Linked DNA regions of Homo sapiens: all the other regions are reported to be linked to region 3. The links are microRNA targets in miRTarBase. Many come from high-throughput screens and were not tested one by one. Region 3 holds a microRNA gene; each other region holds the end of a gene's coding sequence. Distances are from middle to middle.

Region 1 (3,115 bases), not on the chromosome of region 3:
GGCAGAGCTTGCAGTGAGCCGAGATAGCACCACTGCACTCCAGCCTGGGTGACAGAGCGAGACTCCGTCTCAAAAAAATAAATAAATAAAAATAAATAAATAAATAAATAAATAAAATAAACTTTACCATTGAAAAGGAGTTGGTGATCATCTTTCTCCATTTGACGTCTCTGGCCTACCCAGTGAGTCTCTTCAGCTCCTGTTTTTACGCAGTTGCTGTACAAAAGGGGAACGAAAGTAGGGGCATGTTTTTATTTAAAGCTGGTTAGATACTTTTTCAGAGAAGTCATGTGACAGGTTTTCTGATTTTTGTATTATGTGAAACAACAATTTTTGTGTTTCTTGCAGGAGATAATCTTGGCCAACAGTACAATAGCCCACAAGAAGTTATTGGCAAACGAGGTTCCGATATCATCATTGTAGGTCGTGGCATAATCTCAGCAGCTGATCGTCTGGAAGCAGCAGAGATGTACAGAAAAGCTGCTTGGGAAGCGTATTTGAGTAGACTTGGTGTTTGAGTGCTTCAGATACATTTTTCAGATACAATGTGAAGACATTGAAGATATGTGGTCCTCCTGAAAGTCACTGGCTGGAAATAATCCAATTATTCCTGCTTGGATTCTTCCACAGGGCCTGTGTAAGAATGGGTTCTGGAGTTCTCATGGTCTTTAGGAAATATTGAGTAATTTGTAATCACCGCATTGATACTATAATAAGTTCATTCTTAAGCTTGCTTTTTTTGAGACTGGTGTTTGTTAGACAGCCACAGTCCTGTCTGGGTTAGGGTCTTCCACATTTGAGGATCCTTCCTATCTCTCCATGGGACTAGACTGCTTTGTTATTCTATTTATTTTTTAATTTTTTTCGAGACAGGATCTCACTCTGTTGCCCAGGATGGAGTGCAGTGGTGAGATCACGGCTCATTGCAGCCTCGACCTCCCAGGTGATCCTCCCACCTCAGCTTCCAGATTAGCTGGTGCTATAGGCATGCACCACCACGTCCATCTAAATTTCTTTATTATTTGTAGAGATGAGGTCTTGCCATGTTACCCAGGCTGGTCTCAACTCCTGGGCTCAAGCGATCCTCCTGCCTCAGTCTCTCAAAGTGCTGGGATTACAGGTGTGAGCCACTGTGCCCAGCCTAATTGCAGTAAGACAAAAATTCTAGGGCACCAAGAGGCTAAAGTCAGCACAGCTTTTCTTGTGTCCTGTATTCTCTGTCTAATGTGTTGCCCAAATAATACCTAATTGTTAGCCATTCCCCTCCATCTCTGGCCTAAAAGTGATAGTCCAGGTATCCACATGGGCTGGTTCCCAGAACTGCCATTGCTCACTCTCCAAAGAGGGGAAGGTGGGGAAGGGGAAGGTGACTATAGCTCAGCTCCTGAGCTAGTATCTGGCTGTTATTTCAACAACCGGAGTTGGGGTTTGGGCTCATTTTTTCCCCTAGCCAGCAATTATGGACCAGTAGTAACACAAGTGACAGCTTCCTGTGACTGACTTCACAATTAGGAGGTCTAAGATTCCATTTGGGTATTTGCTTAAGGATCCCACATAATTGTCCCAACGGTCATTAGTAGAGGGGAGGTAAGCCTTCATTAATAATAAAGAGAAAGCCCACATTCAAGGTGGTGTTTGAGCAGGGGCAGGGTGAGGGCTGTCCCGGTGCTCATTGCACCAGCACACTCACATTCCTTCTCATTTGGGGCCCACCTGCAGGAAGTGGCACAGGATCAGCCATTTCCCCACCCTTGTCAGCTGATGGCCCACTGTTCTTTAATGACTCAGAGGAATGCCTAGGATTTTTTTTTTTTTTTGAGACAGAATCTCACTGTCGCCCAGGCTGGAGTTCAGTGGCACGATCTCGGCTCACTGCAACTTCTGCCTCTCTGGTTCAAGCAGTTCTCCTGCCTCAGCCTCCCGAGTAGCTGGGACTACAAGCCTAGGATTTTTAACTCAGGTTTTTATTATATTCCCTCCTGAAGTTTTTACTTCAAGAGCTTCTGCTCTAAAGTCCAATTTGGGCTTCATGTCCCCAGTGCTGCATCTCCAGGGAAATGCTGTCTGTGGGAGAGACCAACTCTCAAGGAAGAAGTGGCCACAGAAGGAGCAGGAAGGGAGTTGGCCCTCAGGGCTACTCTGGGGAAGCCAAAAGTCATGAAGGGGAGAAGAATTTTCTGACAAAAACTTGCAGGAATCTCTTAGGTGTCTTCAGTGTTGGAGTGATATGTTGAGAGGCCTTTGGAGTGATGTGCTGAGGTCTCAGGCGCCCACCTCCCTGGCTGTCACTTCCATGTGTCAGTGGTTCTCCCACTTTAGCAGGTATCAGAGTCACCTGGAGTCTTGTCAAAACAGGTACCAGCCCCACCCGCAGCGTTTCTGACTCTGGGTAGCTCTGGGATGGGGCTTGAGAATTTGCGTTTCCAAAAAGGTCCCAGGTGATGCTGCGGTTGCCTGCGCAGGGACTGGACTTTGAGAACCACTTCACTGGTTATTCACATTTCTGCCTCTGCAGTGAGACAGCCTTGAGGTCTGCCTCCTGCTAAGAGTCACATGCTCCTGTCCTTTAGAAATGTGGGCTCCTGCCATCTCCAGGACGCAGGCACTGTTCCTGTTGATGAACCCTATTTCACAGGACCCCTGCTAAGGTGATTTGAGGGGAAATGAGAGGAGGCTCAAATAATCACCCAGCCCCTGCCACTTACTGAAAGTGTAGGTCCTTGTGCCCCACACCATCAGAGTTTCTGCGTTAGCAGATTTGTGGTTTGCCCAGCAGCCTGGGCGTGTGCATTTCTAATGGGTGCCTCAAGTGATCTGTTTCTGATTTGTATTTCTATTGTGAAGAGTCAGCCCAGTACTGCAGGCCTCTTACCTAAGCAGAATCCCAGTCTGGCATCAAAGCTTTAGAGGACAAGTTGATTCAGGCAGAGAAGAACTTGGGCTATACAAGCGCTGTTCTTCAGCATTGAAGTATTTTGGAGGCATTAGATAGTTTAACCCTTTCTCAGTCAAGGAATATTTACAGAACATGATCTCTGGGCATTGTAACTCCTGGTCTTAGTGGGGAATATAGGGACCCCATGTCTCCATGGGGTGCACAGAATGTCTGTGAGAC
Region 2 (3,115 bases), not on the chromosome of region 3:
ACCAATCATCAGAGAAGTCACACGGCGGAAAAACCTTACAAATGTAATGAATGTGGCAAGGTCTTTAGTCTGCTTTCATACCTTGCACGGCATCAAATAATTCATAGTACAGAGAAGCCCTACAAATGTAACGAATGTGGAAGAGCATTTCACAAGCGTCCGGGCCTTATGGCCCATCTTCTAATCCATACTGGAGAGAAACCTTACAAATGTAATGAATGTGACAAAGTCTTTGGGCGCAAATTATACCTAACCAACCATCAGAGAATTCATACTGGAGAGAGACCTTACAAGTGTAATGCATGTGGCAAGGTCTTCAATCAAAATCCACACCTTTCACGACATCGGAAAATTCATGCTGGAGAGAATTCACTGCGTACCTTACAGATGGAATGAATGTGGCAAAATCTTTAGTTAGAATTCACACCTAGCACAACATTGGAGGACTCAGGAGAAAAACCTTACAAATATCATAAATGTGGCAAAGAATTTAGTTTGCATTGAAGCCTCATCACTCATCTCTTGATCCACACTGAAAGGAAACCCTACAAATGTAAAGTTAATAACATATATAAATAATCTATAAAGAGAGAACAGTTATATCAGAATAGAGCATTTAATGAAAACTACCAGTATAGCATATTCTTGAGTAGGATTCACATTTAACTGCTGGCACCGTAATTTGTAACTCTTTGATTTAGAATGTACATACTTCTCATGTTTTAAGTAATAAAGTTTAAAGTTTTTTTTTAGTTTTTTCTTTTTTTTTTGAGACGAAGTCTCGCTGTATTACCCAGGCTGGAGTGCAGTGGCATGATCTTGGCTCACTGCAACCTCCGTCTCCCGGATTCAAGCAATTCTCCTGCCTCAGCCTCCTGAGTAGCTGGGATTACAGGCATGTGCCACTACTGCCCGGCTAATTTTTGTATTTTTAGTCGAGACGGGGTTTCCCTCCGTTGGCCAGGCCGGTTTCAAACTCCTGACCTCAAGTGATCCACTGGCCTTGGCCTCCCAAAGTGCTGGGATTATAGGTGTGAGCCACAGCGCCCGGCCTAGTTTAAATTTTTCTTAGTGTGAATGAATTACATCCTTTCTACCAGCGTTGTTTAATCTTACCTCAGGAGGATACTTTATAGTAGAGAATAATAACCCATTATGATTTTAAGGTTGAAGCAGCCAGAAAAGTGTGTGTGTGTGTATGTGTGTGAGACATAAAACAACATACGCTTCTGGGTGCAATATACTTAAGTAAGTATGATGTTGAGTAATTACACTTAGTACTTGAGTTAGTTTCTCTGTACTCTGGTGTAGGATGTTTATGTGGGTAAAGTCAAAATCACTTTAATAGTACAATTTCAGCCTTGTACACCCTCAAATGTGTGTGAGTGTTAAAGAGTATGCCCTGTATTGTGTTTCTACATGCCTCTTTCTTGTGTGCCAAATAAGAACTATGGTGTGCACCTTCATTTTCATGCAGCAAAAATATATAGTAATATGACAAATATTAGGAAATAAAGTATGGGTTGAGGGCAAAAATACTGTAACATGGCCGGGCCTGGTGGCTCACGCCTGTAATCTCAGCACTTTGGGAGGCTGCATTGGGTGGATCACGAGGTCAGGAGATTGAGGCCATCCTGGTCAACATGGTGAAACCTTGTCTCTACTAAAAATACAAAAAAAAAAAATTAGCTGGGCCTGGTGGTGTGCACCTGTAATCCCAGCTACTTGGGAGGCTGAGGCAGGAGAATCGCTTGAACCCAAGAGGCAGAGGTTGCAGTGAGCTGAGATCACCCCACTGCACTCCAGCCTGGTGACAGAGCAAGGCTCCGTCTCAAAAAAAAAAAAATAATAATAATACTGTAACACAATTTCTTTTTGTACTTCTAGTGTTCAGTGACATCATTTGAAAATATTAATGTTCACCCATCTTCTTTTTAAGTCACACACAGAAAGGGAATTTTGTTTTGGTACATTAACTAGAAACTTCATATAGTCACCCTCACAACTCTTTTGGTAATTTGAATTTTTGACCACTCTTCTGGAACTTGTTTGAAGTCCCCCTAAGGTTTGGCTTGGATCTTGAGAATGATGATCCCATACACTGATATGGTTTGAGAGTGTTTATTATATAATGAGGCTCTGTGGGGGAAAGCAGGGTATACTTTTCCAGCTGGTCCAAAAGTGGCTTCAGAGAACTGGGATAGGTGACTGGCTTGGGGTGTCATGATTGCTAAAGGGTAGGGCTGGGGCGGGGATACCCACTACCCATACTGGAAACTTAGTTACAATTCACACCTAGCATGTATATTTTTATATTTTTTGTATGTATATATATTTTTACATTTTTTTCCTACATTGCCTCCAAATTCTATGTTTAATACATTTCTTCCCTGTTTTGCTCTGGTGAAAACTTTAGGGGACAAATAAATGAGTGCTGTTTGGAGACAAAATTTTGTGACATGGGACTGGGCATTGTGGCGTGTGCCTGTAGTCCCAGCTACTTGGGAGGCTGAGATGGGAGGATCACTTGATGCCAGGAGGTCGAGGCTGCAGTCAGTGAGCTGTCTGCACTTCAGCCTGAAAGACAGAGGGAGACCATCTCAAAAAAAAAAAAAAAAAAAAAAAAAAAGTTGTGACCTGAGTATGTCCATAAGACAATGGCAGGTATACACTAGGATTAATATAAATATGAAAAAAAAAAAAAAACTTGGCCGGGTGCGGTGGCTCACGCCTGTAATCCCAACATTTTGGGAGGCCAAGGCAGGCGGATCACGAGGTCAGGAGTTCAAGACCAGCCTGGCCAACATGGAGAAACCCTGTCTCTATTAAAAGTACAAAAAAGTAGCCCGGTGTGGTGGTGGGCGCCTGTAATCCCAGCTACTCGGGAGACTGAGGCAGGAGAATCGCTTGAACCCAGGCGGCGGAGGTTGCAGTGAGCCGAGATCGCGCCACTTCACTCCAGCCTGGGCAAAAGAACGAAACTCTGTCTCCAAAAAAAAAAAAAAAAAAAAAAGGAAATTGCACATTCCGCCCTGGCAGGGTTTTGCATTTCATATTTTAATTTGCATCCCCTTCATAAACAATTCAAGGACTTTAAAATTCCGGAAACTAGTGT
Region 3 (3,115 bases):
CAAAACCATGAGTGGTGGTGCTTGGAGCCATAAGAGCTGGTAATGACTATACAGGGGTAGGCCTTCTTGAGGAAGTGACATTTACCTATGACCTAGATGAGTTTACTAGGGAAAGTTCATTAGGTAAAGATGAGAGGGGGAAAAATACCAGGCAGAGGAAGCACTATGTCCTCTGTGGCAGAAAGGATCATGGCAGGCATATTAGTCAGGACCCAGCCAGGAAAGCAAAACCCACTCTAGGTGATTTGATAGAGGGAATTTCATACGGGGAGTCAGAGGAGTTGAAAGAGCTCCCAGGGGAACCCTGAGAGTAGCAACTCCAGGAAGCTGGGACTACTGTATTTGTTTGCTAGGGCTGCAGTAACAAAGTGCCACAGACTGGGTGGCTTCACACAGAAAGTTATTGTCTCAGAGTTCTGAAGGCTGGAAGTCCAAAATCAAGGTGTCAGAAGGGGTAGTTCCTTTTGAGGCCTATGAGGGAAGGATCTGTTCCACGCCTCTTTCCTTGACTTGTAGATGACCATTTTCACCTATGTCTCTTCACATCGTCTTCCCTCTGTGTGTGTCTATCTCTGTCCAAACTTCCCCTTTTTATAAGGACAACATTCATATTGGATTAGGGTCCACCCTAATGACCTCACTTTAATTCGGCTACTCTATAAAGACCACAACCCTAAATAAGGTCACACTCTAAAGTACTGGGGGTTAGAACTTCAACACATGAACTTGCAGGGGAGACACAATTCAACCCATAGCACCACCCTGGAAGCTGGAGAACAAGGAAAGAAACAGTTTCTGGAGCCTAAGACAAGATAAGCTGGAACAAAGAGGGCCTGCCAAGATGGGTAGCAGGGATCACACAGAGATGGCTGTGTAGTGGGAACTGCAGCCACAGAAGAGACTCCTGAGAAAGAGAAGCAGGAGAAGTACTCTGGCTTCTCCTTCCTTCACCTCCAATATCTTTTGCCCTCCCTCACTCCCCATTGGCTGAACTTTACTGGAAGGCAGTTGGCTCTGGAGCCTGGAACAGCCCCCAGTGACACAGAGCAGATCGGGGGACCACGGGATGGGAAGGGTGGACATGGCTCTGACAGCAACAATGTAACACCCATGCAACGAGTCTGCGAGGCCGAATGGAAGCCAGCTGGCTGCAGGGGAGAGAGCAAGAGAGTCTGGCAGAAGGTGCACCTGGAGAAGGAAGTAGAGGCCAGGCCAGGTAGGAGTTTGGTCTGCATGCTAAGAGCCATAGAAATATCCAAAGGTTTTTAATAGAGCTGGGGGAGAGGCGGTGATGTGATCAGAGATGTGTTTTGAAAAGACCTATCTGGCTATGAAGTGGAGAGTGGGTTGAGGATAGTGGGGCAGATCAGTTAGAAGGCTACGCCTAAGAGAAAGCCTGTTTTACAAAAAGAGGGAGCTCCTGCTGCCCCTCTCTTTCCCTGGAGTTTTCATACCCTCCACGTGTACTAGACATGTGTATCTGCCAGTCAAAGCCACCCCTCCCCTGGTGCAGAGGCCCGCTCCAAGCTCTCATTGCCCAGTGTCCTTTTTCTAGATCCTCTCCTGGTTCACTTCCTTTCTCTCTGGGCAGTCCTTCCCATGCTGCAACACTGATTCTTCTTTTGTCACCCACCTGCTGCAAGGGGGGCCCTTGTCACCCATCTCACCCATCACTCTGGCTTAATGGTGCTGACTGAGTCCACGGCTTTGGTGGCCACCCATATGTTGCTGCTGCTTCTCAGATCTGTATTTCCAGACATGATTTCTCTCGTGAGAAAAATCAGCCTGCCAGATATCTCCACTGGAATGTCCAAAGGAATTGGAATCATGAGCTCAGCATGTCTAAAACTGAACACATTATCTTCCCCTCGCACGTGGACCCCTGTAACCTGCCCTTCATCCTGTGTTCCCTATCCTCCTTATGTCCCACCCCCACTCCTGTTTGAATATTTCACCAGAAACAGGAGTGGGGGGTGGGACGTAAGGAGGATGGGGGAAAGAACATCATCCTAAACTATTCCCTCTTACTCCCCCACATCCCATTGCTGTCCAAGTCCTGTTGGCTCTGTCCTAGATATCTGTCAAAATCCACTTTTCCTGCTACTTCCCTAGCCCAGGTCCTCATTTTTATGTGGGTTCATGCAGTGGTCTCCTAGCTGGCTTCCTGCCTCAAGCCTTGCCCTGGCCGGTCCACTTTTCCTACAATCAAAGTGACATCTACCAGTGTAAATAGATCATGTCCTTTCTCTGCTTAAAATCCCTTCAGTGATTTCTTATCGTCCTCAAGTCAAGTCTGATTACTATCTCTGCACAGTGCCCAGCCCACAATAAATGATTGGTGATTAAATGAATAAATGACAAACCAATATAGAAAAATTGCTAAGTGTGGAAATGAAGAAAAGATGCCATTTTTTTTCCCCTGGAAGTCTTTCCGACTGTCCAAGACTCAATCTGGATCTATCCTTGGGTGTGTTTGTATTGTACTTCTCACACTATACTAAACCCATCTACTTACCTGTCTGTTTCCTACTGGAATGTTCCTTGGTTGCTACTATATCTCTTAGCACAGCTCCTGGAAGAAAGTAAATGCTCAAAAAATATTTGATGAATGAATGAATGATAAGGAGAGCTCTGGGCTGGGGCTGACTATGAAATGCTTATTAGGAGCAGAGTGTGTCTGTCCTGGTTCCAAAGCACTGGGGGAACCAGGATGGGTAGAGAGGCTGAAGGCAAGCCCTTTAGGGGAAGGATAGCAGTGACGAAGGCTGAAAGATCAACAGCAATACATTTTTCTCAGGAGACTTCTTTGGGGCAGTGTTTTCTAAGCTGGGTTCCAGGGACCACTGGTCTTGCGAGATGCTCTATCTAGGGTTCTATATCAAATCAGCATGTAGAAACATGCAGCCCATACCCCTTGTGTACATCAGCATCTCAAAGAGTCTGAGAAGTCCTGCAGTTGAAAAACCAACACTTTAACCCTTTTAACTCAGTATTTCCTGAACTTATTCCATAAGTTTGAATATACAAAAATAAAGTTTTTTGCTTAATACTCAGCAACACCCCCTTCCACAAGATATACTGGAATAAATAGTGTTTGGTGGTCATGAGTATTTTA
Region 4 (3,000 bases), 37 Mb from region 3:
CTGGCTGTTGCCAGCTCTGCCCAGGCCAGCTGATCTTCTGTCCACCTCCCTCCCAACAGAGCGCTGCTCTTCTTGGGGCCCTCTCCCTCCTCAGATGGCTCCTCCTGTGTCTCTCATCCAGGCTCTGGGTGATCAGGAGAATGTGTGGGGCTGTACATGATGATGACCCTGATCAGAGCAGTGATGGCTGGGGAAGGTGTCAGGGAGGGATGCTGGAGAAGGCTGGGTTTTGGGTGTCAAGGATCCTGGACCACGAAGGGCTGCAATAGCAGCATTTCTCACTTCCCAATCTGTGTCTTGCAGAAGTGGCCGATGCGATCTCGTCTCTATGCTGGAGGCCTGGGGTACTCCGATCTTGACTCCACCACAGCCAGCACCCCCAGCCAAAGAACAAGAGATGCAGAGGTGGGGTCCCAAGTCCCTGGAGAGGCAGATGCTCTCCTTTCCACCACACCACTCTCACCAGCTCTTGGTGACAAATAATTATCACACTCGCCCTTTTCTCCTAGACTGTGACTCATGCTTATGGGCCTGGATTTTCTACCAGCCCCCAGATTCTCAGCCATCAGACTTGACTCAGACTCAGCTCCCAAGTTCCAGCATGCAGACCAAGAGAAGCAGTAGCACTTCTGTGATGGACAGTACCTAGAGGGGCACAGGTTGGAGAGCCTCCTCCTTGGTCCCCAGGAGGGGACTTCCCCATGGCTCTTCTGTGACAGCTACTGGGAAGTGGGAGAGAAAGAGGTATAATTGGGCTCAAAGTTGAGGTAGGGAACCACCCTAGCTTTCTTCCCCTAAGGTTTCTACAAACCCTCTGCAGATAGCAAAAAGGCAGGTGCAGAGGGAGGGGCCTGGGATGGCACCAGCCCCAGGTGCTGATGGGAAAGCCAGGTGGCCGGATAGGCTCCTGGTAGCTCCAAGTGTAAACAGATCTGGGCTGGGTCACACAGCCAGAGGGGAAACTGAAGAAGGAAATGTGCTTTCTAACTGCATCATGAGATGCTTACCTGATGTTAGAGAGATAGTGAGGAATTCAGGATTCCTCCCTCTGTAGTATGGGCCTTTCCAGAAGCTGCCCCTCACCACTACATTTTCTCTCCCTCTCGGCTCCTGCACTCTTCCACTCTTTTCTTTTCTTTTCTTTTCTTTTCGTTTCTTCTTCTTTTTATGTAGAGATGGGGGTCTTGATATGTTGCCCAGGCTGGCCTCGAACCCCTGGCCTCAAGTGATCCTCCCACCTCAGCCTCCTAAAGTGCTGGGATTACAGGCATGAGCCACCATGCCCAACCCCACTGTTTTCTTGACATGAGTTATATCTACAGGTTAAGCCATACATCTTGCATTGCTTACATTCCAGTTTCCAGAGAAACTTTTAGATAGTCCCAGATGCCTAGTTTGAGATCTTAACCAGAAGCAATTCTACCTTAATTGAACCAAGCAGCAACTTATGGCCTTAAATATGAAGGATATTGACAGAATCAATTACATCCTTGAAGGACCTTAAGAGAAGATCAGGTATATAGGGGGTGATCATTACAGTCTTCTCTTTCCATTATGTTAGAAACCTGCCCTCAAGCAAAAACAAGATAGGCCTGCCTTCAACTGCTCAACCACTCAATTGGCTCCTTGTAAAATTTGTGTTCGAGGCTTCCCTGGCTCTGGAGTTATTTCTATAGTCTATTAGCTCCCTAGGGCCGGCTCCGCCTCATGGAGATCGTCCTTGGGGGCTTTCTCTAAGTCCTACCATGGGGTGCCAGAAATGTGATATAGCTTCGGTGAAACTCATCTCTGGCCCTAAAGAAATAACTTGAGGACTAATCATAGAATCTACACACACTGAAAATAACTTTCCAGATCGGATGTAGCCTCAAACCTGGCACCTGAAGTCCAGATGGAACAAATTACCTTTCGGTTAAATTTCAGCCCTTCAGAGTGGGAGGGGACGGGCATGACCAACTAGAGTCCCAACAAGGTTATCCTTAGACACACACCATTGTTGTTATCATGAATGTAAGTGAGCTCTGGGCAGGCTGGGAATGGTTGGGGTCTGGGTTCTGGCATGACAGGACCCTGTACCTCCACAGGGCTGGCCAGGGCAGAGCTGAAATAGGGCTGGGGGTGCGACTGAGCCAGTTGTGGTAGAGGTAGAAAAAGAGACACAGAACATCCCAGCCCCGAGCTGCCTGGGATGTGGGAGAACAGCTGGAATGTGGATGGGAGCCATGGGGAGAAGGCCTCGGCCAAGGCTGAACTCGTAAATCTGCCTTGAACCACGTCTCTGCAGAGGGACCCTGAAGAGCTTGTGCAGAGCTGATGTGGGCAGCTGGACAGGGCCAGGCAGGGGCAGAGGCCAGGTGTGGGAGGGCATGAGCACAGTGTTCTTCACAAGACCATAAAAGTCCAGCTAGAATGTACTATTTTTAAAGCCAAACAGCAGTATCTTCCTGGTTGAGTTCACGGGAGTGCTAGGAAGAGAAGCAGATACATTTCCTCCTCAGTTGGTGGCACACTTTCCTGGGGATGAAGGGAAATTGGCTTGGGGTGTGTGTCGGGGTCCTCTGGATAGCATGGAGCTTCTCCTGATAATAGAGTAGACTTTGGGTTGGAGCTTGCCCCACCCTGTCCTGCTCAGACTCAGGCCTTTGCCTAGTAACATTAGAGCCCTCAGGGGTGACCGCATGGCCCTGGTGTAGACAAGGAGGGCACAGGAAGGATGACGCAGGTGGAGGGCTGCAGGAGGCAGGTCCCATCGCTACAAGTTTCTCAGGGTGTCTTGGGCCCTTTCCAGGCAAAGCTGTTCTCCTTTGTGCCCAGGACAGTCGAGGGGGGTGGGGCAGAGGCCATCTCCTCCAGCCACAGAGACCCAGCCCCGTCAGGCCAGCAAGCAAAGGGGCCTGGCAGGGGGCAGGGTGAGCCAAGGGAAGGCCTAGGGGATGGATGGGAATAACCAGAGGATGGACTGGGCCCTCCCTCCCTGACAAGCACAGTAATGCCCTTGAG

The links. The annotated mature microRNA hsa-miR-4433a-3p reads ACAGGAGUGGGGGUGGGACAU and lies in region 3 at 1,922-1,942, opposite strand. An mRNA with a match to its seed (bases 2 to 7 or 8) in the 3' UTR can be bound and repressed. Matches are read on the target gene's strand: a 7mer-m8 pairs with bases 2 to 8, a 7mer-A1 pairs with bases 2 to 7 and ends in A, and an 8mer does both.
Region 1: miRTarBase lists UMPS as a target of hsa-miR-4433a-3p. Seed matches in the 3' UTR shown: 7mer-A1 at 573-579, 7mer-m8 at 1,065-1,071, 7mer-A1 at 1,382-1,388, 7mer-A1 at 1,977-1,983 and 7mer-m8 at 3,048-3,054.
Region 2: the mRNA of ZNF610 is a reported target of hsa-miR-4433a-3p. Seed matches in the 3' UTR shown: 7mer-A1 at 873-879 and 8mer at 976-983.
Region 4: miRTarBase lists TCF23 as a target of hsa-miR-4433a-3p. Seed matches in the 3' UTR shown: 7mer-A1 at 2,577-2,583.

Annotation. Positions count from the first base shown.
Region 1 is chr3:124,743,567-124,746,681 of GRCh38, forward strand. It overlaps UMPS (uridine monophosphate synthetase), which reads left to right. Exons shown (of 6, transcript NM_000373.4): 6 at 349-3,115. The coding sequence ends at 518. Among named protein-coding and RNA genes, the nearest start is that of MIR544B, 13 kb to the left of the region's middle.
Region 2 is chr19:52,366,372-52,369,486 of GRCh38, forward strand. It overlaps ZNF610 (zinc finger protein 610), which reads left to right. Exons shown (of 6, transcript NM_001161425.2): 6 at 1-1,407. The coding sequence ends at 396. It also overlaps a transcript of ZNF880 not described here. Among named protein-coding and RNA genes, the nearest start is that of ZNF880, 2.0 kb to the right of the region's middle.
Region 3 is chr2:64,339,636-64,342,750 of GRCh38, reverse strand. MIR4433A (microRNA 4433a) reads right to left here and starts at 1,992; the gene lies at 1,912-1,992. It overlaps MIR4433B (microRNA 4433b), which reads left to right and starts at 1,903; the gene lies at 1,903-2,004. LOC105374768 (a long non-coding RNA gene) reads left to right here and starts at 1,042. Exons shown (of 3, transcript NR_189739.1): 1 at 1,042-1,216.
Region 4 is chr2:27,152,385-27,155,384 of GRCh38, forward strand. It overlaps TCF23 (transcription factor 23), which reads left to right. Exons shown (of 3, transcript NM_175769.3): 3 at 304-3,000. The coding sequence ends at 483. Among named protein-coding and RNA genes, the nearest start is that of TCF23, 4.9 kb to the left of the region's middle. RefSeq lists an enhancer at 530-589.